Homo sapiens: one gene and its partners. The gene in region 1 interacts genetically with each later gene. Each region holds a gene or a part of one and is shown on either strand. Other genes may lie near its edges.

What was found.
Region 2: changes in DCAF7 (region 1) and EIF3D together harm fitness less than expected from each alone (positive genetic interaction), as found in Homo sapiens cells (one large-scale study listed by BioGRID).
Region 3: changes in DCAF7 (region 1) and SEC31A together harm fitness less than expected from each alone (positive genetic interaction), as found in Homo sapiens cells (one large-scale study listed by BioGRID).
Region 4: changes in DCAF7 (region 1) and SLC39A9 together harm fitness more than expected from each alone (negative genetic interaction), as found in Homo sapiens cells (one large-scale study listed by BioGRID).
Region 5: changes in DCAF7 (region 1) and DMAC1 together harm fitness more than expected from each alone (negative genetic interaction), as found in Homo sapiens cells (one large-scale study listed by BioGRID).
Region 6: changes in DCAF7 (region 1) and VPS51 together harm fitness more than expected from each alone (negative genetic interaction), as found in Homo sapiens cells (one large-scale study listed by BioGRID).
Region 7: changes in DCAF7 (region 1) and MRPS5 together harm fitness more than expected from each alone (negative genetic interaction), as found in Homo sapiens cells (one large-scale study listed by BioGRID).

The regions. Positions count from the first base shown.
Region 1 is NC_000017.11:63,553,342-63,557,202, forward strand, and holds part of DCAF7 (DDB1- and CUL4-associated factor 7), read left to right. Parts: intron 1-3,861. UniProt on the Homo sapiens protein: Involved in craniofacial development. Acts upstream of the EDN1 pathway and is required for formation of the upper jaw equivalent, the palatoquadrate. The activity required for EDN1 pathway function differs between the first and second arches.
Region 2 is NC_000022.11:36,512,165-36,516,025, forward strand, and holds part of EIF3D (eukaryotic translation initiation factor 3 subunit D), read right to left. Parts: intron 439-3,861; coding exon 296-438; intron 1-295. UniProt on the Homo sapiens protein: mRNA cap-binding component of the eukaryotic translation initiation factor 3 (eIF-3) complex, a complex required for several steps in the initiation of protein synthesis of a specialized repertoire of mRNAs.
Region 3 is NC_000004.12:82,880,957-82,884,817, reverse strand, and holds part of SEC31A (protein transport protein Sec31A), read left to right. Parts: intron 1-2,877; 5' UTR 2,878-2,881; coding exon 2,882-2,960; intron 2,961-3,861. UniProt on the Homo sapiens protein: Component of the coat protein complex II (COPII) which promotes the formation of transport vesicles from the endoplasmic reticulum (ER).
Region 4 is NC_000014.9:69,453,837-69,457,697, forward strand, and holds part of SLC39A9 (zinc transporter ZIP9), read left to right. Parts: intron 1-975; coding exon 976-1,061; intron 1,062-1,895; coding exon 1,896-2,030; intron 2,031-3,861. UniProt on the Homo sapiens protein: Transports zinc ions across cell and organelle membranes into the cytoplasm and regulates intracellular zinc homeostasis. Participates in the zinc ions efflux out of the secretory compartments.
Region 5 is NC_000009.12:7,796,938-7,801,257, reverse strand, and holds the start of DMAC1 (distal membrane-arm assembly complex protein 1), read left to right. Parts: upstream 1-1,479; 5' UTR 1,480-1,523; coding exon 1,524-1,797; coding exon of another isoform or gene 1,798-1,809; intron 1,810-2,620; coding exon 2,621-2,685; coding exon of another isoform or gene 2,686-2,822; 3' UTR 2,823-4,320. UniProt on the Homo sapiens protein: Required for the assembly of the mitochondrial NADH:ubiquinone oxidoreductase complex (complex I). Involved in the assembly of the distal region of complex I.
Region 6 is NC_000011.10:65,094,754-65,099,317, forward strand, and holds the start of VPS51 (vacuolar protein sorting-associated protein 51 homolog), read left to right. Parts: upstream 1-1,460; 5' UTR 1,461-1,497; coding exon 1,498-1,725; intron 1,726-2,244; coding exon 2,245-2,374; intron 2,375-4,564. UniProt on the Homo sapiens protein: Acts as a component of the GARP complex that is involved in retrograde transport from early and late endosomes to the trans-Golgi network (TGN).
Region 7 is NC_000002.12:95,108,120-95,111,980, forward strand, and holds part of MRPS5 (small ribosomal subunit protein uS5m), read right to left. Parts: intron 1,923-3,861; coding exon 1,797-1,922; intron 290-1,796; coding exon 56-289; intron 1-55.

The DNA of each region.
Region 1 (3,861 bases):
TAATTGAAGGAAACAAAAAAATTTAGCTAGAGGTTAATGGAAATATGGGGATAATTTTCCAATTCAAGTTCACAGACCCCAAGTTAAGAAACCCTGCGAGAGAGAAGTATGTGTAGTGGTTGGTGAGCAGCAAATCCTGCCTTAAAGTGATTCTCAGGCTAAGTTTGTGAGAAACCCTGCCAAAGAGGTGGTCGACTTCATAATTTGGAGGAACTTTAGAATTATTGGTTGGAATTTTTAGACCATTGGTTCCTGCTTGCCATGGATAGTGGTCACCAGCAGAGGATAAAGTAAAATGGACACAGCAAATTAACACTGATGAAAAAGGCTAGAAGTGGTCATCTTTTTAGTGTGGAGACATTCACTAAGAAAACATGGTTGTAATTTTTAAAAATTTGCATTAGCATAATCATGTTTTCCTAACGTAAAATTGTACCTAGTTGATCCATAGAATTAAGTCTATCAACAGTTTAAGAAATTGACTTCCAGGTGTTCCTTCATGTGAATAAATTTGGGAATTGTTGCAGAGTAAAGAAACAGATTCTATCAACTACACTTGGAATAAAAAGCCCCATTATAGGGCTGGGCGTGGTGGCTCACACCTGTAATCTTAGCACTTTGGGAGGCTGAGATGGGAGAATCGCTTGAGCCCGGGAGTTTGATACCAACCTGGGCAACATGGAGAAACCCTGACTCTACAAAAACATTAAAAAATTAGCCAGGTATGGTGGCATCTGCCTGTAGTACCAGCTACTTGGGAAGCTGAGGTAGGAGGATGCTTTAAGCTCAGGAGGCAGAGGTTATAGTGAGCCAAGATCACGCCACTGCACTCCAGCCTGGGCGACAGAGCCAGACCCTGTCTCAAAAAACAGCCTCATTATTGGTTATTATGTTTCTACCTTCTTTTGTTGTGGTCTCTTGAGGGATACAGCAAGATTGGTGTTGGAGCAACAGGTTCTCTAAATTTTAGTGTGTGAGAATCCTGAGGGAGCTGCACATTCCTGGGCTCCACCCCTGAAGTTAACAGACTTGGAGATAGGTGACAGACACACTAGTGGTTGAGTGGTCCAGATGGCACTCTCAGAACATGGCCCTGGAGCTGCCTTGGCATCTGTTGGCCAGAGGCGAGAATGTGATCTTTTTGTGTCTGCATGCTCCTAAACATTGGTTCTGCCCTTCCATCCAAGTTCACCCATGAAAAAAGCTCTGTGATTAGCCTGGGTTATCTAAGTCCTGCCACTTCCCAGTTTTGTATTGCCTTGGGCAAGTTATCCTCTGTGTCTCAGTTTCATCATCTGTAAAATTAGGGCAATAAATAATAACATCTACCTTGTTCAAAGATTAAATGAGTTAATATATGTAATGGACTTAGGAACGCCACCCGGTGTGGAATAAGCCATATAGAGATGTTAGCTGTTATTTAATTATTATCATTACTGTACCTGTAATTGAAATATAACCAAAGAGAATTATATGGCTGTTTAGTAAATTTACTTTTGTATTTTCCAGAAAGGATTCAGGAATAAGAGGTCAGAAAGGTAGCTGAAAAGGTCATTATTTCATTCTCTGCCTTTTAAAGACTCTGGGGGGAAAATTCCCTTATCTCTTTCAACCCAACTCATTTTGTAGTCTAGCAGATTCTTATAGTCAGACTCCAAGTAGTGTAATTTTCTAGTTTAAATCCATTTTCTCTTGTTCTACCTGGCTTACCTACGTAAGTCAGATATAAGAATTTGGCATTTCTCCTGTGTTTTGACAATATGTTTGGTCTTTAGGCCCAGGTGTTATTTCCCCTCTTTTATTGGGAAAAGCTGGGTAGCAGTTCCTGGGCTTCTGTTCCACTTAAGTGCATGTTTCAGGGTTGGTTTTGATAAAGATGGCAGTGTGATTGGGATTTAGTTTGCCCCAGTATTTAACTGACTACTTGTGCTCTAAGATTTGGCATCCAGAGAGTATTTTTGAGGTTCTGAGGAGAGACTGTAGGTATATCTGATGCTTTTTGGAGAATCCTAGTAGTGAGTCTGGGTGGCATGACCACCTTGTACTTGAAACACTGGGATGGGTACTCACCTCACCAGCCTGTGTTGATTCCTCTGAGGTTTTTAATACAATTACTTTATATGTTTGATGCATAATTATTTCGACTCCGGTATTTAATTTTTCATCTTGGTATTTGCGGTAGCCCTTCAGGATTATCATTCATTTGCTCATTAATTTAGCCGGTCTGTATTGAACACATACTCATGTGTTTTAGGCACAATGTGTTTTGGTACACATCAGTACTTTTGATAGATATTTAGAATGTCGCAGTGTTCCACGAGTCCCTGTCAAGACTGTCAGCAGGGGAATTTAAGACATAAAACTCTTCTGGTTTTAACTTCCTCCTTTTTCTAGACAGTGAGAGGACTCATTCCCTGTTGTGACCACTGGATAAAAGTGATAATGCTTTAAAAAAAAATGCTACTTTATTGCTTTTTGTCCTAATCTTGTTCACATAGACTTATTGGAGATGCTGTCACTTGAACAAGGAGTGAATCTATGCTCTGTAGGTAGCCTGGCTTGCCTAAGGACTTGCTGCCAAAGCTCTCGCTGCCAGAGCTCTCTGGTCAGCCTCTGAGCCACGAGCCAAAGGTGTGCTGTGCCAGAATTCATCTTAAAGTTTAATAGGGCAGGACCTTGGGTACCTGCAGACACTGGTCCTTGGTAATCAGTCAGGAAGAGGCTTGAAGAGAAAGCAAATAGAAAAGACCAGGAAAAGCTAGTGTATATTCTCAGAATATTGTGTTAGCCGATTTTTGTTTTATTAACAATTGTGGGAAAATGTTCCAGTGACTGGAGTGTTATGTTGATTTGGATAACTTGGGAGCTTATTTTAAAAATTACATATACATACACACATTCACCTTCTTCTTCTGCACTAGGACTGTGTGTGTTAAAGTGGAATATGGCCAGGCGCAGTGGCTCATGCCTGTAATCCCTGCACTTTGGGAGGTGGATGCAGGCAGATCACCTGAGGTCGGGAGTTCAAGACCAGCCTGACCAACATGGAGAAACCCTGTCTCTACTAAAAATACAAAATTAGCCAGACATGGTGGCACATGCCTGTAATCCTAGCTACTTGGGAGGCTGAGGCAGGAGAATAGTTTGAACCTGGGAGGCAGAAGTTGCAGTGAACGGAGATTGTGCCACTGCACTCCAGCCTAGGCAACAGAGCAAGACTGTTTCAAAAAGAAAAAATAAATCAGGGCCGGGCGCAGTGGCTCATGCCTGTAATCCCAGCACTTTGGGAGGCTGAGGCTGGCGGATCACGAGGTCAGGAGTTTGAGACCAGCCTGACCAACATGGTGAAACCCCGGCTCTACTAAAAATATAAAAATTAGCCAGATGTGGTGGTGCGTGCCTGTAATCCAAGCTACTTGGGAGGCTGAGGCAGGAGAATCACTTGAACCTGGGAGGCGGAGGTGTGGTGAGCCAAGATTGTGCCACTGCACCAGCCTGGGTGACAGAGTGAAACTCCATCTCAAAAGAAAAAACAAATTAGCTGGGAGTGGTAGCATGCACCTGTAGTCCCAGCTACTCAGGAGGCTGAGATGGAAGGATCACTTGAGCCCAGGAGGTCAAGGCTGCAGTGAGCCAAGATCTTGCCACTGAACTCCCGCTGGGGTGACAGAGCGAGACCGCCATCTCAAAACCAAAAAAACAAAACAAATGGAATCAGCACAATAGCTGTAGAAAGATGCTATTAGAAAGGATGGGGGGAAATGGAAAATAAGTGGCAGATAAAGTACCCATACTAAAAAGATGTCTTTAGCTTGGTTGAAAAATAATTGTCAGTCCTACCACTGTGAGTTCAAAGAACTT
Region 2 (3,861 bases), on another chromosome or scaffold:
CAGGCATGAGCCACCGCGCCCGGCAGTCCACTGCTATTTTCAAGGGAAAGGGAAAACATCGTCTTCTGAGTTCTCAGTTCTGGATTTCATTGACACCATTGCCCTAGTTCAGGACTCCATTCAGCATGCCTGCTGTTTGGCATTTGTCTCCTAACTGACCCCTCCATCTCTACCCCACCCCTGGATTTATCTCTGCCAGTCAATTGTCCAGTACACGGGGAGGGGAGGGTCAACCTCCCTACCCAGACCCTTCCTTTCACAAGATCAGCTGCCAGCTCCTGCACAGGAATCTCACCCAAGCTTGAGGTACTCAGATCCAGCCAGCAAAGCACAGCAGGTCCACCGGGCCAACTTGTAGCTGTTGTTCTTCAGCTCCGTGGCAATGACAGCCCCTCGCTGAGAGTCCAGCTTCTGACGCCAGTCAACGCCATTACAGTGCTGCAGGAGAGCCCCGTTAGAGAAACAGAAGCAAGCTCCAAATGCCCAAGGTGCTGGGACCTCCTCTGGCAGAGAAGGAACTCCCTAGTCTGCTTGCTTAGAAAGTGGGTAGGTACGCACTAAATCTTACCATTTAAGAGACAAAGACATAGTCCCTTCCCTTGCACAGCCTGCCGCACAGCAGTCACTCAACGACTTACAATTCCTCTCTTCTAAAAGCTCGCCTAGACAGGGAATGATGGATGGACACACACGGACACACACACACACACACACACTTTAGAAGTGTCATATAAACAGCAGAGCCAAGTGTTTACTATGTGTTGCGTGGTAAGGAAGGGCTTCACAGAGGACGTGTAACAGTGAGCCAAGTGGAGAATATTGGCTCAAGTGCAGGTGTAGCCAGGAGGTCTTGATCTGAGAGGCATGGTGGGATAGGAAAGACAGGCAGAGTTGGCCTTAGATGGGGGTGGAAGCCTGCAGTGGGTGCAAAGCTGAGTCTGACATTTTACATAAATGCACACACAGTAGAAAAGGACCCCAGAGAGATCCTCTTTTCTACCCATATCATTTGTAGACGTGGGAAGTTGGACCCAGAGTGAAATGACTGGTCAAAGGTCACATGACAGAGGTTCCCAAACTTTCTTGGTTCATGGCAAACACAGGGCAAAAGAAATACTCAAGAATTTCTTTTAAATTTTTTTTCTTTTTTTTTTTGAGACGGAGTTTTGCTCTTGTTGCCCAGGGTGGAGTGCAGTGGCACGATCTTGGCTCACTGCAACCTCCGCCTCCCGGGTTCAAGTGATTCTCCTACCTCAGCCTCCCTAGTAGTTGGGATTACAGGTGCCCGCCACCATGTCCAGCCAATTTTTGTATTTTTGGTAGATACGGGGTTTCATCATGTTGGCCAGGCTGGTCTCGAACTCCTGACCTCAGGTGATCCACTCGCCCCGGCCTCCCAAAGTGCTGGGATTACAGGCGTGAGCCACCGTGCCCGGCCAAGAATTCCTTTTATTTAGTTAGGGTCAAACCATGTATTAGTATTCTGACAAGATGTCTCTGTGTTTCCCTAAAAAATTTAAAATATCCTGCAGCACTCCTGTGAGTTTGCTGTGGCACATTTTTTGGAGATGGGGTCTCACTATGTTGCCCAAGCTGGTGAGTTCAGGATTTGAACTCATGAACCCAAGCGATTCTCCCACCTCAGGCTCCTGAGTAGCTAGGACTATAGGTGCATACTACTGCATACAGCTTGCTGGGGCATGTTAGAATTCTTCTCCCAATCTGCACTGCTGATGAAGCGTGTATTGGACAATTGACTGGCGGAGATAAATCAAATATAGAAGTTGGGTGGAGGTAGAGAAATCAGTTAGGAGACAAATGTCAAACAGGCATGATGAAATGGGGCCCTGAACTAGGGCAATTATCAGTGAAATCCAGGACAGATTCAGAAGACAGCAAAGCCTTCTATTTTGCTAACAGCAAAACAGAATAATGTAAAAAAGAAGTTGGAGATGTTGGAGGCTCAGAGCTTAGGTGGAAGAAAGACAATGCTGATGGACAGCTGGCCCAGAGGCAATGACGGGACTGGGGACACATGGAAGGGGAAGGTGTTTTAGCAGAAAAACAATGGGAAGTATAATAAATCAGAGTAGATTTGAGAAATCATTTTCAAAGAGTTCATGGTTGAGGCCTGGGATGGGCAGAATTCTAAGATGACCCCCAGTGACCCTTGCCCTTGCAGAGTCTCCTCCCCTTGACTACGGGCAGAACCTATGGCTAGGATCAAGTATCACCCCCATGATCATCCTACCTTGTATGTCAAAAGGGATTTTGCAGATGTAAGGCCGCAAATCAGTTTACCTTAATATACACTACCTGGCTGGGCTCACCCAACCGTATGAGTCTCTTAAATCTAGGTGTAGAGGTCGGAGACGGAGGAAGTCAGAGATCTGAAGCACAAGAAGGATCTGATGTGCTGTTGCTATCTTGGAGATGGAGGGGGCCATGTGACAAGGAATGCAGGTGGCCTCTAGGAGCCAAGAGAGGCTCCCAGCTGACAACTGGCAGGGGGATGGGGGCCTCAGTCATCTAACTGCAGGGAAATGAACTTTACCCACAATAAGAATGGGCTTGGAAGTGGCTTTTCTTTCAGAACCTCCAGATGAGAACTCAGTTCTATTTCTATTGACACCATGATTTCTGCCTTGTTTGGATTTGTGGCCCCACCCAAACTGCATGTCAAATTGTAAACTCCAATGTTGGAGGAGGAGCATGGTGGGAGGTGACTGGATCATGGGGGCAGACTTCCCCCTTTGGCACTATTCTTGTGGTAAGAGTATTCAAGAGATCTGGTTGTTTAAAAGTGTATACCAACCTCCCCCCTCTCTTTCTCCTGCTCTGGCCATGATGTGCCTGCTTCTCCTTTGCTTTCTGCCACCATTGCAAGTTTCCTGAGGTCTCCTCAGCCACGCTTCCTCTAGAGCCTGCAGAACTGTGAGCCAATTAAACCTCTTTTCTTTATAAATCACCCACTCTCAGGCATTTCTTTACAGCAGTGTGACAATGGACTAATACAAGGACCAAGCACACAGCACTGGACTTCTAACCTACAAAACCGTGAGCTAATAAATTGGTATTGTTAGGCCGGGTGCTGTGGCTCACGCCTGTAATCCCAGCACTTTGGGAGGCCGAGGCAGGCAGATCACCTGAGGCCGGGACTTCAAGACCAGTCTGACCAACATGGAGAAACCCCATCTCTACTAAAAATACAAAATTAGCTGGGTGTGGTGGTGCATGCCTATAATCCTAGCTACTCGGGAGGCTGAGGCAGGAGAATCGCTTGAGCCCGGGAGGTAGAGGTTGCAGTGAGCCGAGATCGCACCGTTGCACTCCAGCCTGGGCAACAAGAGCGAAACTCCGTTTCAGAAAAATAAAATAAAAAATAAAAGTAAAATACATAAATCGGTATTAAGTCATTAAGTTTCTGTTAATTTGTTATGGTGCGAAAGAAAACTAATACAAAGTTATATAATACAGAAGTATGTATGGCGAAGAGAGCTGTCCAGGTGACTCCACTGGGATCAAAAAGGAGGGGAGCCAGCAAAGACGACATGCAAACGGAACAGGGAAACGGGTGAGACCAGAGTAACGCGGTAACACAGACGGCAAAACGACACAGGCACGACGGCCCTGAATGCTTTGGGGAGCTCACCAGGAAAAATCCAAGAAAAGGCCGCTGGCCCCAGAGCGGCAAACCTTCCAGTGTGCTCTTTCAACAGGTGATGTGGGCGGGGGGGCGGATTGGGAGGGGTGGGGTGGAAATAGAGGAGGAAAAGTGAAGGAAGCATGTTTCTTTCAAGGTGCCTCTGAAGAGTCAATTCTGAGCCAGATCTTAGAATCCATGAGTTAAAGAAATGAGGA
Region 3 (3,861 bases), on another chromosome or scaffold:
TATATATTGAGCTCTAGGCCCTGAAAACAGAGAGCACCCCTTCTTTCTAGGTCCCAAGAACAATTCACAAAAATTCACTATATAGGCTCTATTGAAAGGAAAGGAGGAATTATAGGCATAGGGGATTTTAGGACAAGGGAACTACTCTGTGTGATACTATAATGACAGATACATGTTGTTATACATTTGTCAAAACCCATAGAATATACAACACCTAGAGTGAGCCCTCATATAAATTGTGGAGTTTCAGTGATAATGATGTGTTCATGTTAGTTTATGGATCGAAACAAATAGACCTTTATGATGTGCGATGTTGGTGGTGAGAAAGGTTATGTGGTTGGGAAATGTGTAGCAATTTTTTGTACTTTGTGGCTCAACTTTTCTAGGAACGTAAAACTCTAAAAGATAAAGCATATAGCTTTTTTTATTTTTAATCAAAATCCTATGAAAGGTGAAAAGAAATTTTTTTTTTGAAAAAAGCAAAGTCAAAAGATAGTCTATCAACTTAATAGAAAAATTGTCGAATGATGGCCGGGCGCAGTGGCTCACCCCTGTAATCCCAGCACTTTGGGAGGCTGAGGAAGGTGGATCACCTGAGGTCAGGAGTTCGAGGCCAGCCTGGCCAACATGGTGAAACCCCGTCTCTACTAAAAATACAAAAAAATTAGCCTGATGTGGTGGTGTGTGCCTGTAATCCCAGTTACTTGGGAGGCTGAGACACCAGAATCGCTTGAACCCGGAGGCAGACGTTGCAGTGAGCCGAGATCGCCCCACTGTGCTCCAGCCTGGGTGACAGAACGAAACTCCATCTCCAAAAAAAAAAAAAAAAGAATAGAAAAGAAAAATGGTCAAATAATACATGACTAGACAGAAGAGATGACAGAAAAGGAAATATGTTTACCCATAGTCATACAAAAAAAAGATGTTATACATCATTTATAGTATTACTATACAGAGCTAACATTTTTATTTTTCTCTTTTTTTTTTTTGAGTCATGGTCTCACTCTGTCGCCCAGGCTGGATTGCAGTGGCGCAATCACGGCTCACTGCAGCCTCAACTTCCCGGGCTCAAACAATCCTTCCTCCTCAACCTCCCGAGTAGCTGGGACTACAGGCGTGCACCACCATGCCCAGCTAATTTTTGTATTTTTTCTAGAGATGGGATTTCACCATGTTGTCCAAGCTGATCTTGAACTCCTGGGCTCAAGCAATCCACTTGCTTCGGCTCCTAAAGTGCTGGGCTTACAGGCCTGAGCCACTGCACCTGGCCTTTCATTTTTTAGTGTTGGTATGATCTAAAAGTGTGACAGTATGCTCTGATAAGGCTGTAGGGCAATAAGTAATCGTATATTACTGTTGGTGGTATGAAAAGGCACAATTGCCATAGAGGACAACTTGGTAATATTCATCAAAATTAAAATTGCATTAACCTTTTAACTTAGCAATTTTACTTCTGGAAATTTATAGCTGTCCCTTTTTAATGAAATAACGTGCAGATGACCATTTATTTCAGCACTTTTTTGTAAAAATAGCTAAAAACAGCTTAGGTGTTTGTTGGTATTAGACTAGGTAATTATGGTACATCTTATAGTGCAGTACTATGCCATTTCAATATATTTATGTAAAAATAACAAAGATCTTTAAAAAGTACATAATACTATACCGTTGTAATTTTTCCATCAAAGTAACTTTTTTTTTGAGACCGAGTCTCGCTCTGTTGCCCAGGCTGGAGTGCAGTGGCATGATCTCGGCTCAATGTAACCTTCACCACCTGGGTTCAAGTGATTCTTCTGCTTCAGCCTCCCAAATAGCTGGGATTACAGGCATGCACCACCACACCTGGCTAATTTTCTTGTATTTTTAATAGAGACGGGGTTTTGCCATGTTGGCGAGGCTGGTCTCGAACTCCTGGCCTCAAGTGATCCAACTGCCTCGTCCTCCCAAAGTGCTGCGATTGCAAGCATGAGCCACCATGCCTGACTCCATCAAAGTAACTTTAATGACAGAAAATACGTAAACAAGTGGTATATGGGATTATACCTTGAAGTGACCAGTTTTCTAATAATTTCTACTTTATCTTTAAAATCTGTGGGCTTACTATATTCTCTCTAATATGTTGTAACTTTGAATTAATTTTTTAAACTGCTCTTATCATTGAGTAATCCTACTCCAGGAAGTTGCACCTTATTTATTTTTTGGCTGCTCTTACCCGTAATGTTTTGTCATCCATCCTAGTTGGATAAACACATGTGTAGCAAAGTTAATTCTTCAGGTACTACCTTATTATTTTTGTGGGCTATTTTTCTAGACTGATTCAACTGAAGAACTATAATCTGTAAACAGAATAGCCCAGTATTTGTCTCAAAATGGTTTATCAAGTTTGTCTTTTTTTTTTTTTTTTTTTTTTTTTTTTTTTGAGATAGAGTCTTGCTCTCTCGCCCAGGTTGGCATGCAGTGGTGCAATCTCAACTCACTGCAAGCTCTGTCTTCCGGGTCATGCCATTCTCCTGCCTCAGCCTCCTGAGTAGCTGGGACTACAGGTGCCCGCCACCACGCCCGGCTAATTTTTTGTATTTTTAGTAGAGATGGGGTCTCACCATGTTAGCCAGGATGGTCTCAATCTCCTGACCTCGTGATCCGCCCGCCTTGGCCTCCCAAAGTGCTGGGATTACAGGCATGAGCCACCCGGCCTCAAGTTTGTCTTCTTTCTAATGAATATATCCAACAAATGACACCTAAACCGATTTGATTTATTTGCAGTTGGGCATTACTAATGTTGTAGTGGTTTGTTCAGTATGTTTCTATTTAAAATATCTGTGTTCTGTGTTAGACATTCAAGTCATTCAAGGCTGTTTCTGTATAAAATATTCCCTTTAGCAGGATGAAGTTAAAGGAAGTAGATCGTACAGCCATGCAGGCATGGAGCCCTGCCCAGAATCACCCCATTTACCTAGCAACAGGTAAGTTCAAAGGAGAGAAGATAGTATGAGTTACCTAATTTCTTCTCTTCTGCACCTAGCTTATTCAGTTTAAGCTTTATCTTCTCTAGAAAGCCTCTCTCTCCCTGGCAAGTTACTGACATTCTATCAGCCAAGTTTAGTGTTCTTCCTCTGTGTTCCCATAGCATTTTGATCATGATGTGTTACATCTAAAATATTTTCCTTCACAGGAATTGTATTTTATCTTTATTCCTCCAGTATTAAGCACAATAGATGGCATGTAAAAAAAACAGTTAATATCAGTTTGAATGAATGAAGAGCAATTTTGATGTTAGCATTTTTATATAAAAAGAAATAGTTATATCATATATGTCTATAAGCAGATATAGTAAATCACGGGACTTTTTTTTTTTTGAGATGGAGTCTTGCTCTTTCGCCCAGCCTGGAATGCAGTGGCGTGATCTCTGCTCACTGCAAGCTCCACCTCCCTGGTTCCTTCCATTCTCCTGCCTCAGCCTCCCAAGTAGCTGGGACTACAGGCGTCCACCACCATGCCTGGCTAATTTTTTGTATTTTTAGTAGAGATGGGATTTCACCATGTTAGCCAGGATGGTCTTGATCTCCTGACCTCATGATCCACCCATCTCGGCCTCCCAAAGTGCTGGGATTACAGGCATGAGCCACCGTGCCCAGCCCCCATCACGGGACCATTTTTACAGAGATTTTTAAATATATACAGGCTTAAAAAATTATTTACACTACCCACTCTTATAAACATCCTCTCCTAGCCCTGTGCCAGAATCTCATTGCTATAGTAATTTAAGCATCTGCTCAATGGCATATGTGCAGCATTCATGAGCAAGAGAATGGAAAACATGCTTTTAACTTCTGTTTTGTATGGTTTCTCTGATCTTTTATTTTT
Region 4 (3,861 bases), on another chromosome or scaffold:
CAACAGTGGCAGAATTGAACAGTTGCAAGAGACCAAATAACTGCAAAGCCTCAAATATTTACTGTCTAGCTCTTAAGAAGAAGTTTGCTCTTTTCATTCTTGGCTCTAGAATGTCATCTGGAAAAGAGCCTTGGCGCTTCTGTCCTGAACAGCTCTGTTACCAGTTTATATGCAAAACACCAGTTTAAGCAGAAGTGGTATGCAGTGGAATGCAGAGATCTTAGCATTGCTGACAGGGTACACTTTAGAATCATAACCCAAACCTAGTCCTAGTAATAGAATTCTGTCAGTGGCAAAGAAAGGCATGTGAAAGGTGGTACACTGTTACCTGGCCCTTTCTAAGTATAATATGCTTTTCTAACAAATTTCATTCATTCAACCAGTGTTTACTTATTAAGTAGTAATCATCTATATAGAGTTCTAGTATCTTTATTTTATTTATTTCTTTTTTTGAGACGGAGTCTCACTCTGTTGCCGAGGCTGGAGTGCACTGGCACGATTCGGCTCATTGCAAGCTCCACCTCCCGGGTTTAAGCAATCCTCCTGCCTCAGCCTCCCAAGTAGCTGGGACTATTTTGTTTCTTAACCTATAAGATTAAGAGATGCTTCCTTTGAAATTCTTCTTTGGTATTTCCCTTGTTAGAATTTGATTAACTAATCAATGGATTTTTGATTAGTTGGAAAATTGAATGTTAGTTTTCCAATAACAACAACAGCAACCAAAATAACTAACATTGAATACTCTGGGCCAGATGCTATGCTCTTTACATAAGTTATCTCATTTAATCCTCATGAAAACCCTAAGAAATACATACTTCATTGAACACATTTTAAAGATAAGGCTGGCATGTAGAAAGGTTAAGTAACATTACTAGATCCAGCTGGACCTGACTGTAAAGCTCATACACTCAACCACTACACTGTTATTGTTGTTGTTGTTTATAGTATTTTATGTTTCCTTGTTTCCAAATATAGCTGATGGTGTTGCTTTGGGAGCAGCAGCATCTACTTCACAGACCAGTGTCCAGTTAATTGTGTTTGTGGCAATCATGCTACATAAGGTAAGCAACATTTTGGTGTAAGGTTTGGTATTGAGTGTATTCATAATTAAAATTTCTCATGGTCCTTAATGTTTTTCCTGGAATGGGAACATTTTCTTCATTTCATAATTGCTATTCATTTTGGAAAATTGAATAAATCTGTTCATAGCTTCTTGTTCCCATTTTCTTAAGCTTTTCCTTGAGGGGTTTCAATTTTTTTGTGTAGACATATACACAAATTGTCAAATTCTCCTCAGATTTTTATATTTCATAGTAATAATTTCTGTTCAAAAGTATTTTTCTTTTCTTGACTGTTTCTCTTTTTTACTATCCAAGAAACACACAAATAGGATCTTTTCTTGGCTTAGAACATTAATTCCTAAGAGGCATAGCTCAGCGTTTGTACTCTGCCTGGTTTTGTTTTTTGGTTTTTTTTGTGTGTGTGTGGGTTTTTTGTTTTTTGTTTTTGAGATGGAGTTTGCTCTTGTCACCCAGGCTGGAGTGCAATGGTGTGATCTCGGCTCACTGCAACCTCCGCCTCCTGGGTTCAAGCGATTCTCCTGTCTCAGCCTCCCAAGTAGCTGGGATTACAGGTGCCCACCACCACACATTTTTGTATTTTTAGTAGAGACGGGGTTTCACCATGTTGGCCAGGCTGGTCTCGAACTCCTGACCTTAGGTGATCCACCCACCTCGACCTCCCAAAGTGCTAGGATTACAGGCATTAGCCACTGTGCCTGGCCTTTTGTGAGTTTTTCTTTGTATGAGAAATCATAGTCAAATGGCATATACTTCTTGATGTAGAAGCAACCCATACTTCTAGAATGATAATAAGAGATGATTTTTTATTTCCAGGCACCAGCTGCTTTTGGACTGGTTTCCTTCTTGATGCATGCTGGCTTAGAGCGGAATCGAATCAGAAAGCACTTGCTGGTCTTTGCATTGGCAGCACCAGTTATGTCCATGGTGACATACTTAGGACTGAGTAAGGTAAGCTAATCTATTCCCAGCTATCTAAACCAGTGTCTTGTGATCTCTTAGAATTTATGATCTCTTAGATTGAATTTTTCCAATACATTACTCTCTCAAACTAAAGATAAAATTAGGAGTAAAAACTATACAGGGTAAATATCTTAATTCCAATGCGTCCTCTTCATATTAGCATTTTCTTATTCATTTAATTTGAAAACTTCTTCCCTATCAATCAGTTCCAAGAATATTTGCATAAATATGATAGCGCTTCAATATTTAAAATAGTATAACGTAACCAGCCATGCTAGCTTCATTTGACAGATATCTAATAAGTCAAATCTGTCCATATTTAATGTGAGGTAGACACCTGAAGCGTGAGTAACAAGCCACATAGCCGCTTTGAGAAGAGCAGCAGCTGGGCAGAGATTGCTGTCAAGAGTTTAAAAAACTGACATTGATTACTGAAGTGATAGAGTAATCTTTTAAAGGGAACAACATACTGCTCACTGAAAGAAGAGAAGGCTTTTCAGGTAAATGGAAAGGGTTTTTATAACACACTGTTAGCAACTAAGATCAACAAACCCTTCCTTAACGGGAACTTAGCCATTCTTGGTCTCATTTTTCACGTTCCTCCTCTTCTCCCAGCTCTCACGTCCCCAGATAGTAACTGTACAGTTCTTTCTATTGAATACTTTGTACTGAACATAGCTTCAGACCTGAGGTAACATGTGCTCTTCTGACTCCAAGCTGGACCTTCCCATGCCTTATAATCCTGTCTGTAGCTCTGAGCAACAACCCTCCGCATTTTACCCAGATGTCAACTGGCAGGCAACTGGAGGAAAATCTTAGAAGCAAACTGACTCAGGGCTAGTTGATGGGAACTGCTTTCCCCAACACCCTCTCTAAAGGTCATTGATTCTTCTGAGCATCAGTCAATTCAGTATTTGGCAGTAAAACCCATATTAATAGGAACATGTGAAAAATGAGATAAAGAATGGCTAAGTTCCTGTTAAGCAAGGGTTTGTTGATCTTAGATGCTAAGAGTGTGTTATAAAAACCCTTTCCATTTACCTGAAGAGCCTTCTCTTCTTTCAGTGAGCAGTATGTTGTTCCCTTTAACAGATTACTCTATCACTTCAGTAATCAGTGTCAGTTTTTTAACCTTTTGACAGGAAGGTGCTGATAATTCTGGAGACATGGAGTTACTTGCTGCATCTATGGGATGTCCTTTTCTTAAAATTTTAATTAGTTGTCTTAGTCCATAGGTCTACTTTTTTAACAGAAAAGGTTGAAATTAGTTTTATAAAGATTAGCTTATGAGATATACATATATATACACACACACACACACACACACATTTTTTTTTTCCTTTGAGATGGAATCTTGCCTGTCACCCAGGCTGGAGTACAATGGCGCAATCTTGGCTCACTGCAACCTCTGCCTCCCAGGTTCAGACGATTCTCCTGCCCCAGCTTCCGGAGTAGCTGGGATTACAGGCGCCCGCCACCATGCCCGGCTAATTTTTGTATTTTTAGTAGAGACAGGGTTTCACCATGTTGGCCAGGCTGGTCTCGAACTCCTGACCTCGTGATCCGCCCACCTTGGCCTCCCAAAGTGCTGGGATTACAGGCATGAGCCACCACGCCCGGCTGCTTAAGAGATATTTCTAGGCTCTATGAGGTCAACTACTGCATCTTGATTACCACTGTATCTCAAGCACCTGGCCCAGAGCCTGGTGCATAGATGATGCTTGTTAAATATTAGTAGAATAAATAAATTTATGTCTGAAATTTAATATCTGCAATAATATATTGTTGATTCTATCTCAAGAATAATACAAGCCAAACC
Region 5 (4,320 bases), on another chromosome or scaffold:
AAATATCCCTAACTGGATATTGGAAGAAATTGATTCCAATCTTTATGAACAACTAAGAAGGGTTCAAGATTTCAGATGAGGGAAGTAACAGCAGATGTGGTGGAAATAGCAAGAGAACTAGAATTAGAAGTGGAGCCTGATGATGTGACTGAATTGCCACAATCTCATGATAAAACTTGAACAGATGAGGGGTTACTTCCTATGGATGAAGAAAGTGGTTTTTTGAGACGGAATCTACTCCTGGTGAAGATGCTATGAACATTGTCAAAATGTTGGATAAAGGGCTCCAATTTTGAAAGACGTTATATAGTGGTTATTAAAATGCTATAAAACGGCATTGCATGTTGCAAAAAAATCTTTCGTAAAAGGAAGAGTCAATTCTTGCAGAAAATTTCATTATTGTCTTATTTTAAGAAATTGGCACAGTTACCCCAACCTTCAGCAACCACTACCTTGATCAGTCAGCAGCCATCACCATCAAGGCCAGACCCTCCACCAGCAAAAAGATTAGAAGTGGCCAGGTGCGGTGGCTCATGCCTGTAATCCCAGCACTTTGAGAGGCCAAGGCAGGTGGATTACCTGAGGTCAGGAGTTTGAGAATAGCCTAGCCAACATGGTGAAACCCCGTCTCTACTAAAAATACAAAAAAATTAGCCAGGCGTGGTGGCAGGCATCTGTAATCCAAGCTACTCGAGAGGCTGAGGCAGGAGAATCACTTGAACCCGGGAGGCGGAAGTTGCAGTGAGCCGAGATTGTGCCATTGCACTGGGCAGTCTGGGCAACAAGAGCAAAACTCCACCTCAAAAAAAAAAAAAAAAAAAAGATTAGGATTTACTGAAGGCTAAGGTAATCGTTACCATTTTTTGGGCAAGATGTTTTTTAAATTAAGATATATATACTGTTTTTTAGACACAATGCTACTGCACATTTAATAGACTACAGTATAAACAACTTTTATATGCACGGAGAAACCAAAAAAAAATTGCATGGCTTGCTTTATCGAGATATTTGCTGTATTGTGTTGGTCTAGAACCAAACCTGCAATCGCTATGGTATGTCTGTATCTAGCACATGATTATGCACATATAAAACCCAACTCCTTGATTCACAGGCCTCTGGATAGGAGATATGACATGCCCAAGGTCTCGCAGTTCATGTGAGGCAGGAAACTTAAGAGAGCCAGACTTCTTTAAGGAGACTGAAAGGTGATTCATTTAGTGAGTAGCGATTACAGAATTTCTAAAACAGTGGGGGCGGGGGGGGCGGCGGGGAGGAGGGCTGGAATTGTCCTCCAGCGCATACAAGGTTGTTGCTGCCAGAGAAATCCAGCAGGAAAGAGCAGCATTCTTTCACCTTTTCCGCCTCTGAAGCGGAGGAGAACTTCATTTCCCAGCAGCCCTTAAGATTCCTCCGCGCACTGCGCTAGCGTCCCGGCATTCTGCTTTCCGGCGCTCTGCCTTCCGGTGCGTCGTTTACGCCAGTTTGAACCAAAGACGCCCAAGGTTGAGGCCGAGTTCCAGAGCATGGGGTCTCGGTTGTCCCAGCCTTTTGAGTCCTATATCACTGCGCCTCCCGGTACCGCCGCCGCGCCCGCCAAACCTGCGCCCCCAGCTACACCCGGAGCGCCGACCTCCCCAGCAGAACACCGCCTGTTGAAGACCTGCTGGAGCTGTCGCGTGCTTTCTGGGTTGGGGCTGATGGGGGCGGGCGGGTACGTGTACTGGGTGGCACGGAAGCCCATGAAGATGGGATACCCCCCGAGTCCATGGACCATTACGCAGATGGTCATCGGCCTCAGTGAGAATCAAGGCACAGCACTTGGGCGGGTTGGGTATCTGCGGGGTAGAGGAAGGAAACGGAGCAGCCACGTGGGCGGGGAGGCGGGGAGGCGGGGTGCTGCCGCTGGTCAGGTGGTGGGGGCACCTCAAACAAGGTGGGAGAGGAAGTTGTTGGAACGCCTTTCTTTTTTTTTTTTTAATTTTAAGTTAGTATTTCTTGAGAACCCTTATTAGACTCAGCCCTTTTAATTCTCAGAATAGCTGTTAGAAGTAGGTATGATTATAGTATTTACTGTGGAGCAAACCGAGGCAACGAGGAGTATTGTGTTCATGGTCAGGAAATGACAGTCACTTGATCCCAGGTATATCAGATCTCAAAGCCCATACTTTTTCTCCAGGTCCTGGAGAAAGCCTGAGCGAGGGCCCTTGACCTTAATTTAAGAAATTTGCCTTGAATCCCAGATCTTTAGACGTGGATTCTAAGCTCACCTACTTGGTACACCTGGGTAATGTGGCCCACAGCCCCGTTCTGTGATCGTCAAGATGTCATCCAATCAAACGTCATGATTTTTTTAGCTTTCAAACCGATTGTCAGTGAATAGAATTTTAGGTTTCTAACTGTCTTACCTTCTTGATCCTGTATAGGTAAATTCTCCTACAGGATATTCTTTTTTTTCCTGATTTTTTTTTCTTTTTCTGTGCTTCACTTGCCTTATAAGAAAGATACAATGGTAATATATCCTCCAGAAGTGTTGTGAGGGTTAAATAAGATGGCGTATATGTGAAACACTTGGTAAATTTAAATGCAGCATAAAGGTAAGGTATTGTTGTTTTTTTTCTAGGCATTGCCACCTGGGGTATCGTTGTCATGGCAGACCCCAAAGGGAAGGCCTACCGCGTTGTTTGAAAGTACCACCAGTGAATCTGTCTTCTGTCTCTGTCCCTTTCCCCGTGACACACACAGCAGGCATGGAATTTAATGGGTGTTCTGGACAGACACTTGTACATGGACAGACATCACTACTGTGGATACTACAAGACTGAGAAGAAAATCGTATGTTGTCATTCTCTGGCTATGGAGTGTTTGTGGCCTTCACAGATTTCACAGGAACCAATAAATCCCTCAGAGAAGTAAACAGGTTCTTTGTCTTATCTGGGGAAGGAAAGTATAACTTATATTTAAATATAATTGCTTAATTAAGCATTATATATAAACATAATAGTATGTCTTATATAATTGCATGTCATATTATATATAATAAACATAAATATGTTTAGTTATATAGTTAGTATAATTTTTAAAACTTTTAAATACAGCATATGGTAAACCAACGGGAAAATTAGCTATTTTACTTCATTATTTTAAAGAGTTCTTTTTATTTCTTTCATAATTGGATCAACAACTGTTAACCTAACCCTGGGTGGGCATCATGCAATATATAGAAGTACGTGAAATTTTCTGTGTATGAATTGCTGATACTTTGCAAGGCATTTTCAAATCCATCACCTTATGAGAGCTTCACAGCTAGTCTGAGGTAGTTACTTCATTGGAGGTAAAACTTAAAACACAAGAAAGAGCCCACATGATTTGCCTAGGGTCATTCAGTAAGTCCGTGATGGAGCTAGAACTTGTTCTTGTCAGTTTTTTGTTCTAGTCTTCCCTTTCATGGAGGCAAGAATAACCATTATGAAACAGTTAGATAATCATAAAAATCAGCATACAATAAAAGACTTAAATGTCACAAGAAAAATTCAAAACCTTTAGCTAAAAAAAAAAAAGATCTTTTGATTCTTTTTCCACAAGCACTAGATATGTTTCTGTGATGATTTTGAGATAAGTACTCAAAATTACATAGTTCATTTCTAAGAGAAGGCCATGTTTTCTACCTATTGGGTTTTTCTACCCTGAGATACTATGGCTTCTTTGTAAAGGTATATAAAGTGTTTTTCAAAGCGGAAAGATACTGTTAAATTCAGCTGCTAATCATAGTGTATTTGTTTGGAATGACATGTTGAGCAGGTAGTACCTTTACGGCTGTTGCTTTTTGCAGCATTATGTGGAAGTGCCTAAGTCTATTTAGCCTCACAGATGACTTTAGAATCTTGTATTTTCTACATCAGAGTTCATAGCGGGGATGGTGCTACATATATCTATGCAACTGAAAAAGAAAACATTTCAAACCTAAAGTACGCAACAAGATATTATTTATATGAAATCCATAGCTCAGTTATGCTATGTTCATGAATAGAGAAGTTTTAAGTTGGAAGGGACCATGGATGACCCAAAGCAGATACATATGGTCATTCATATACCTAAAATACCTACAAAGACAAGTTGTTCCCTGGTTTAAAAGGCAGTCTGTTCTATTGATGGACTGCTTTAGTCCCTGAACATTTTCTTTGGTTAAACCAAAAACACATAAACCTAACTTGGTCTTGGCTTGATCTACTGGGTAAATAATAACTCTTAAATATATATACAGTTGACCCTTGGACAACACAGGAGTTAAGAGCGCTGAACATTTGCTCAGTGGAGAATCTG
Region 6 (4,564 bases), on another chromosome or scaffold:
CACCACTGCACTCCAGCCTGGATGAAGAGCAAAACCCAGTCTCAAAAAAAAAGGAAAAGAGAACCCTGAGAGTTATCCTCCACATTTCCACCTAACCCTTCACTCAGCACATTCCATCAGTCACTTAAGCTCTGCTGAGTCTGTCCTTTTTTTTTCAATAATAGGGGGCGGGTCTCACTACGTTGTCCAGGCCAGTATTGACCTCCTGGGCTCAATCAATTCTCCCACCTCTGCCTTCCAAAGTGCTGGGATTACAGGCGTGAGCCACTGTGCCCGGCCTTAGGGGTTCTTAAATGTGAGTGTGTATCAGAACTACTTGGGAACTTTCTAAAAAGAAGCTAGATCTGAGAGAATCCCAGAGTCTTTTTTTTTTTTTCTTGCTTTGTTGCCCAGGCTGGAGTGCAGTGGCACCATCGCAGCTCAAGCAGTTCCCCCACCTCAGCCTCCCGAGTAGCTGGGACCACAGGCGTGCGCCATCATCCTGGCTAATTTTTGTTTTGTTTTTTTTGAGACAGAGTCTCGCTCTGTCATCCAGGCTGGAGTGCAGTGGCGAGATCTAGGCTCACTGCAACCTCTGCCTACCGGGTTCAAGCGATTCTTCTGCCTCAGTCTCCGAGTAGCTGGGACTACAGGCGCGCGCTACCACACCCGGCTAATTTTTGTATTTTTAGTAGAGACGGGTGTTTCACCATATTGGCCAGGCTGGTCTCCAACTCCTGACCTTGTGATCCGCGCCCCCACCCCCCCGGCCTCCCTAAGTGCTGGGATTACAGGCGTGTGCCACCGCGCCTGGCCTGTATTTTTTTTTTATAGAGACGGAGTTTCGCCATTTTGCCCAGGCTGGTCTCGAACTCCTGGGCTCAAGCGATCCACCCGCCTCGACCTCCCCAGTGCTGGGATTACGGGAGTGCCCGGCGCAGCTCAGCGCAGAGACTTACAATGCGCCACAGATAGTCCTGAAGGCAATTCTGATGCACGTCAGAGGACCAGGCCCTAAGAAGAACTGCGCTAGAGGCGTGGTACAGAATAGTGTACATGCATTTAATCCTCGTAGCCCCCCTGTGAAGTATGTACCCCAATTTTAGGAATGGGATAAACTGAGCCACTGCCAGTGGCAGGATCCCAGGAACACTCTACTCTGGCCTCACGTCCCGCATCCGTCCATTGCATCTGGGCACATATTCCGTGGGCCCCTTGCCTGCGAGAGTGCAGGTTGGGGAGCCACTACCCGTCCCCCTTCTGGGACAGCAGCAACCCCAGGCAGTTCCACAAAATGCTTCCACCCAGGAAACTGGGGGAATTCAGGGCTCTCCCGGAACCTTTGCACCCGGGGAAGACAGGTGCGGGGGAACTCTAGTCTCGAAGGACCTAGGGCTGCAGGGGGACGTTTCACCTGAAGGACTGCCTCGTTTCAACAACAACTTTATGGCTCCCGGAAGTGCCTCCTCCCCGTCCCCTTCCTTTCCAGCCTCACGCCCGTGGGCTGCAGTTGGAACGATGGCGGCGGCAGCTGCCGCCGGGCCTAGCCCGGGGTCTGGACCTGGGGACTCCCCAGAAGGGCCCGAGGGGGAGGCTCCGGAGCGTCGGCGGAAGGCGCACGGGATGCTGAAGCTTTACTACGGCCTCTCGGAAGGGGAGGCGGCGGGACGCCCCGCGGGGCCCGACCCCCTGGACCCGACTGATCTGAACGGGGCGCACTTCGACCCGGAAGTTTACCTAGACAAGGTGTGTGCGCACGGGGAGTGGGGGGGTGCGGGGAGGGGGGAAGGGAACCAGGCCCCTGCTATATTGCTCCCCCAGATCATGCCTCCGACTTTTTGTGAGGTTCAGGAGAGCAGGTGTTCATAAGAGGACGAACCTCGGCCAGGGAGTACGAGCAGCTGAGGCGTCTGAGGGGATGTGAGTAGGACTGGACTGGCCTGAGGTGATGCGGCATCTGAGGTCTTCTGGGCTGATGTGATAGGCCCGGAATTGGGGGCGTGGCCCAAGCGTTGACAGGCGCGGGGCTGGGCTTAGGCCGAGCCCCAGGATTTCAAATGCTGACAAACACCAAACACGGTTGAACCTAGTAACCCCTGAGCTAGGCCACTTAGGGCCCCCTGCCTGGGATTCCTGACAGCCGGCGGGGGTTTGCGGGGTGGGTGGGGATCAGAGATTTCTTGCCCTGAAAGCCTATCAGCTGCAGGCAAGGCTGGGGGACATGAATGCCTCCTGACCCGAACACTAACCACCCAACTTCTTCAGCTGCGTAGAGAGTGCCCTCTGGCCCAGTTGATGGACAGTGAGACGGACATGGTGCGGCAGATCCGGGCTCTAGACAGCGACATGCAGACCCTGGTCTATGAGAACTACAACAAGTTCATCTCAGCCACAGGTGATCCCCACGGGGACACACCCTCCAAAGTCTCACAGCCCCCATTCTCCCACCTGTGTTGGGAAAACCAGCAAGGGATTTAGAGGGGGGAGACTCAGATTCCAGTCTTGTCCTGACATTATTCCATTCTCACCTCCTTTCCTTTGAGCCTTCGTTGTCAGACTACTATAGAGATAATAGCTACTCTCAGAGGGTTGTCTTAAGTACCAAAGGAGAGAAAAGACAAAAGGAGATTAGTTGTTTATTTTTTAGAGACAATGTCTTGTTCTGTCTCCCAGGCTGGAGGGCAGTAGCATGATCATGGCTCACTGCAGCCTCGACATCCCAGGCTCATGTGATCCTTCTGGATCCTACCAAAGCACTGGGATTACGGGTGTGAGTCCCTGGCCCAGCCCAAAATGAAATTTTAAAATGAAATGTATTTATCTGAAGCACTTAAAAGGCCAGGCATGGTGGCTCATGCCTGTAATCCCAGCACTTTGGGAGGCTGAAGTGGGAGGATCACTTGAGCCTAAGAGTTTAAGATTGACCTGGGAAATATAGTGGGACTCCATCTCTACAAAAAAATAAAAAATAAAAATTAGCTGGACAAGATGGCGTATGCCTGTAGTCCCAGCTACTCAGGAGACTGAGGAGGGAGGATCACATGAGCCTGGGAGGTCGAGGCTGCAGTGAGCTGTGCTTGTACCACTTCACTTCAACTTGGGCAACAGAGCAAGACCCTGTCTCAAAAAAAAGAAAGTATCTATCTGAAGAAGCATCCCAGACACTAGGCTGGGCACAGTGGCTCATGCCTGTAATCCCAGCACTTTGGGAGGCCGAGGCAGGTGGATCACCTGAGGTCAGGAGTTCGAGACCAGCCTGGCCAATATGGTGAAACCCCATCTCTACTAAAAATAAAAAAATTAGCTGGGTGTGGTGGCAGGCACCTGTAATCCCAGCTACTCAGGAGGCTGAGTGGGAGAATCACTTGAACCTGGGAGGTGGAGGCTGCGGTGAGCCAAGATCACGTCACTGCACTCCAGCCTAGGCAGCAGAGCAAGACTCTGTCTGAAAAAAAAAATAATAAGAAGAAGAATCCCTGACATCAAGGAAACCTCAGTAAGGTGTAGTTTCTCTTATTATTGATAGCTTTCTTTTCTGCTCCAGGGAAGAATAGGTGGTCTTGTCCCTCCCTTTCTTTCTCCCTTCCTTCCCTCCTTAACTAAGCAAAGAGAGAAGATGTATGATATTAGGGGACACAAAGATCATGTCGAGGCTTTTTTTTTCTTCTGTCCTCTTTATTCTCTAGTGCCAGACAGTGTTCCACTGTTTTCCACACTAGCTTCTGTGCTGTTTTGAGGAGATGTACTACTCAGACTTTTGTAGTAATTGTACACCCACGTGTAGTAAGTCCAGGAGCCAGATCCAAAGGGTTTACCTGCAGCCTGTGGAATGTTCTGGGAGCATCTGTGGGGTTGCATTCTGATGTCTTACTCTCGTGTCACAGTGGTGGGTGTGGTAACCTATACACATTGTTCTTTTATCTGATTTGAAGCAGATTCCATGAGTAGGCACCTTTCTGTTAGCTAATACCAGCATCAAAATGGCAAGAAATCATAGTTTCTGTGCTGGGATATTTCTCACAGGAATTTAATAAGATTACATTTTCCATTTGTTGGAATGTGTATAATAATATTTTGAGACTTAGCTCTTTTTGTACATCCCACAAAAGGAACAAACGTTTGGAAAAGTGTGAGGATAACCAGGAGCATTGATGTCTTAGAAGCTTAAGTGAGGGGCCGGGCATGGGGTTCTCACCCGTGATCCCAGCACTTTGGGAGGCTGAGGTGGGTGGATCACTTGAGGCTAGGAGTTCAAGACCAGCCTGGCCAACATGGTGAAACCCTGTCTCTACTAAAAATACAAAAATTAGCTGGGCAAGGTGGTGCATGCCTGTAGTCCAAGCTACTCATGAGGCTGAGGCAGGAGAATTGCTTGAACCCAGGAGGTGGAGGTTGCGTGAGGAAGGTGTTTCAAGACATAGATTTGATAGACTTGGGCGAGACACTCAGGAAAGTAATGTAGCATGGAGTGTGTGTTGATTGGGCAAGAGAGAGAGAAAAATGAGAAAGGAACTAGGTCCTCAGGAAGGAGGGGGGTGGAACAGAGCAGGGATGGAGGCATCGGCCTCAGCAAAGGGCCGGGAGC
Region 7 (3,861 bases), on another chromosome or scaffold:
TCTAAACTACAAGTACTCTCTGTCACAAAGGCAAACAAAACCAGGAGTTTGCTACCTCCACAGGGACCAGGGTCAGGGGGGCCAAGACTGATGCCTCCCCATGAGTTTCCACTCCATCCTCGCTCCCGTTTAACCTTCATCTTCTTCTTTCGGTCCCACTCTTCTCTCTGCTGGATCATGTCTGCCTCCACCTTCTCCTGCTCTTCCTTGCTTCTTTGGGCAATGGTCTGCACTGCTCCATTTTTCATAAGAGGGACATTCAGTCCGGGCCATAGAAAACCATAACGCCCTGAAGGTTTAAAAATATAAATAATAATTTTGTTAAAGTACTCATTTTTCAAGTGTTAAAATGTCAGGCAATGCATGTACAGATAATGATGACACACTGTTCACTGGAGCTTAAGCTAACATTATTAACTTGGTAGGTCACTTGGCACAATCAAAATTTTAAATATACTTCATGGTATTACCTAGAGAAACACTCACATACAGGTACAAGGCATATGGATGCTTGGACAAGGACGTCCACTGAAACATTATTTGCAAAGGCAAGAAATGCAACTAATACAAATGTCCAGCAATTATGGACTGGTTAAATGAACCACAGCGTCTCCAGCATAGGAAACACTCTGCACTAAATCAAAAGAACAAGGTAACTCTCTAGGTTCTGATGTGGAATGATTTCCAAGACCTATTATTGAGTGAAAAAAGTAAACTGTAAGACAGCATGTACCATGTGATATAATCTAAATTTTTTTTAAAAAAGAAGATATCTATTTCTTTTTAGCTATTTATATATAAATTAATAACAATTTAATACATAATACCTTTTGTATTCATCTTTTTAGGTATTTATGTATAAATACCTAAAATTTAATACATAAATACCTTTTTAGGCATTTATGTATTAAAAAACTGAAGGAAACACACCAATATGAGGCCAGTGGTTTCCTTGAGGGAGACAATAGGATTGAAGAAGGTAGAAGAAGCATCCAGGGGGACTTCAAGTTTCTCTATAATCTACATTTTTTACTGAGAAAGTATAAATACATGATTCTTATAATTTAAAAAAAAAGTGTTAAAAAAATAAGATATAAGTAATAAAGAAAAATATCCAAGTAGACATGCGATGCTGGAAGTGTGGTGCCAGGTGTTTTCTTTATCCCTGAAGGCCATTACTATCAAAGATGGTTTGTCAGCAAGCACAGTACAAGACGGGCTGATTGAAGTACACTACACTATTTTTACTCTTCCAAAAGCATGAGTATAAACAATCACGTGTTCTGGGTGTCAACAAACTAAGGCCCACAGGCCAACTCAGTTCGTGACTTGTTTTTGTAAATGAAATTGTACTGGAACATAACGATGCCTATTCGACTGTGTGTTATCTGTGGCTGTTTCTGTGCTACAACAGTAGAGTTGAGCAGTTGCAAAACAGACTATGTAACTCACAATGCCAGAAACATTTACTATCTTCCCTTTGCAGGGAATATTCGCCAACTCTCCATTTAGTCTCTATTTTATCACTAATTATAACCTATTTGAGGGCAGGCACTATTATAGGAGATGACACCTAGGGACATTTAATGCTTGCTGAATGAATAAATCCATTTCTATGGGATTTTCCTCCCCCAGAATCCTGGGGCAATGAGTAAGTCAACTGGTTGAATTCTAAAACCATAGATCGTAGTGCCCTTCATAAGAAATGTTTTGATGCTTCTAGTTTGTAAAATATCTATAAAATCTGGGGTAAGAAACTTACAAAGCACTTTAGCTATTTTTATAAATAAGTTTACCTTCACCAATGATCTGACCCCTGTTCAGATCCTTTCTTTTCTTCTTTTTAGTTCTTTTGCCTCTTCCTTTTTTTGCTCCAGCACCAGTCTCTGCTAAAGCGCCTTTCCACAGCTCATCTGCAGTCACTGTAACGAAACAGGGTTTCTTTTCTTAATTCTGTAGTTTTCAAGCAATGGTCTATGATCTCCTATTGAATAATAAGAGAAGTGGAGGTCAGCTTACAGCTTTACCCATGCATCACTGAGGTAATGAAAGCAAAATTAAATCATCCTTTGCACACATCAGACGGTTACACTTGGAAAGCCCAAGAAGAGACAATTCTATTACTTTCCTCCACAAAACTCTCACTAAATATTTTATTTTTCCCTCTAACTGCTTAAAAGCCAGCATTCAAATCTCAGTTACTTACCAATAGGTTCGTTTCCCTGACATTTTATCAACCATGATATAGGCGTCTTCCCTGTCCTCTTGCCTCCATTATAACCACTAAGATAACTAATAACTATCCTTCCTAAGTATAAGTTTTCTAGTCCAAACAAGAATCAACATTTCAATCTGAACCCACAAATCTGGAACACAATCTATGGTTATAAAATCAACTGTTGGCCAGGTACAGTGGCTCATTCCTGTAATCCCAGAACTGTGGGAGACTGAGGCAGGAGGATCACTTGAGGCCAGAGTTGGAGGCCAGACTGGACAACATAGTGAGATCCCATCTCTATTAAAACTTCAAATATTAGCCAGGTGTGATGGCATGTGCCCATGGTCCCAGCTACTGGGGAGGCTGAGGTGGGAGGGTCACTTGACCCCAGGAGTTTGAGATTACTATAATCATGCCACTGCACTCCAGCCTTGGGGACAGAGTGAGACCCTGCCTTCAAAAAAATAATTGTTCCATTACCAATTTCTTTAATAAAGAATCGGAACCACAAAATGTTATAACAGTAAAAAATCTAAGACATATTTATATCTATATAACTGAAATACTAAACAAATTCTAGAAGATAAATGAGTACCTTCATTCTCTTATGAATGCTTAGAGTTTAAAACTTCTACCTACTTGCTTCCTGCAAGGTCTTACGCTGATCCTCCAGGTAGATAACACGAAAAGAGAAAAATGTTTTAGGGTTATAATACTTTTAAATGCTTTATATCTGTATAGCATCCAATTTTTCAAAAACACACACATATACACAGCTGGTCTTCGTAAGTGAGGCTCAGGGAAAGTGAGATTCCACATCACATGTTGTTTTGGACATCCCTGACCAGAACAAAGGATTCGGCTCAACTTTAAGCCAACTCTAATTCACTTTAAAAGACCACAGGCTCAAAATAAAAGTACCAACCTCCAACCAAACTCTCACTAAGGATTTGATTTTTCTCTCTAAGTGCTAAAAAATGGTGGTACCTATAAATGCCATGGAAAACTTGAAAGTTCACTTGTAATGGAGGCATACTAAGAGGCCAATCAATCACAGAGTTTTCTTTCACTTAGAATCAGAACCCTTAAATCACTCATTAAGATGAAAAGAGACTCAATTTTAAAAAGAACTTGACATTGAGACAAAAATGTAAAAAGACTGAATTAAGAGTTTAGCTCTTTTATATATATATAGTAAGAGGAAAATAAAATATCTAACTATATTTGAAAAAGACAGCAAGTCATTAGTCAACCTTTGAATGCCATTATGCTATTAAAAACGTTTTTAATACTTTTCAAATTATAAAATAGCTATTTTTAAAAATCTGGAAAATACAGAATGCAAAAATAATCATAATCCCATTACCATTGTTAGATAAGAATGTATATTCTGCCTTTTTCTTTATGCATGCATACATAGTATATATTTAAGCAGAATTATACCATATGCACATTTGTATCCTGTTTTTTTTAAATTTAATATTACATTGTGAGTCTTTTCCCATATTCTTAAATATTATTCATCAACATAATTGTGTAATGGCTGCAAGGTGAATTAAGTTCTTTTAACAGAGATTTTACTATTTTTACCTCAGGTCTAAGATTCTAAATAACCTAAAAGGCTAGTTAGAATACATCTACTA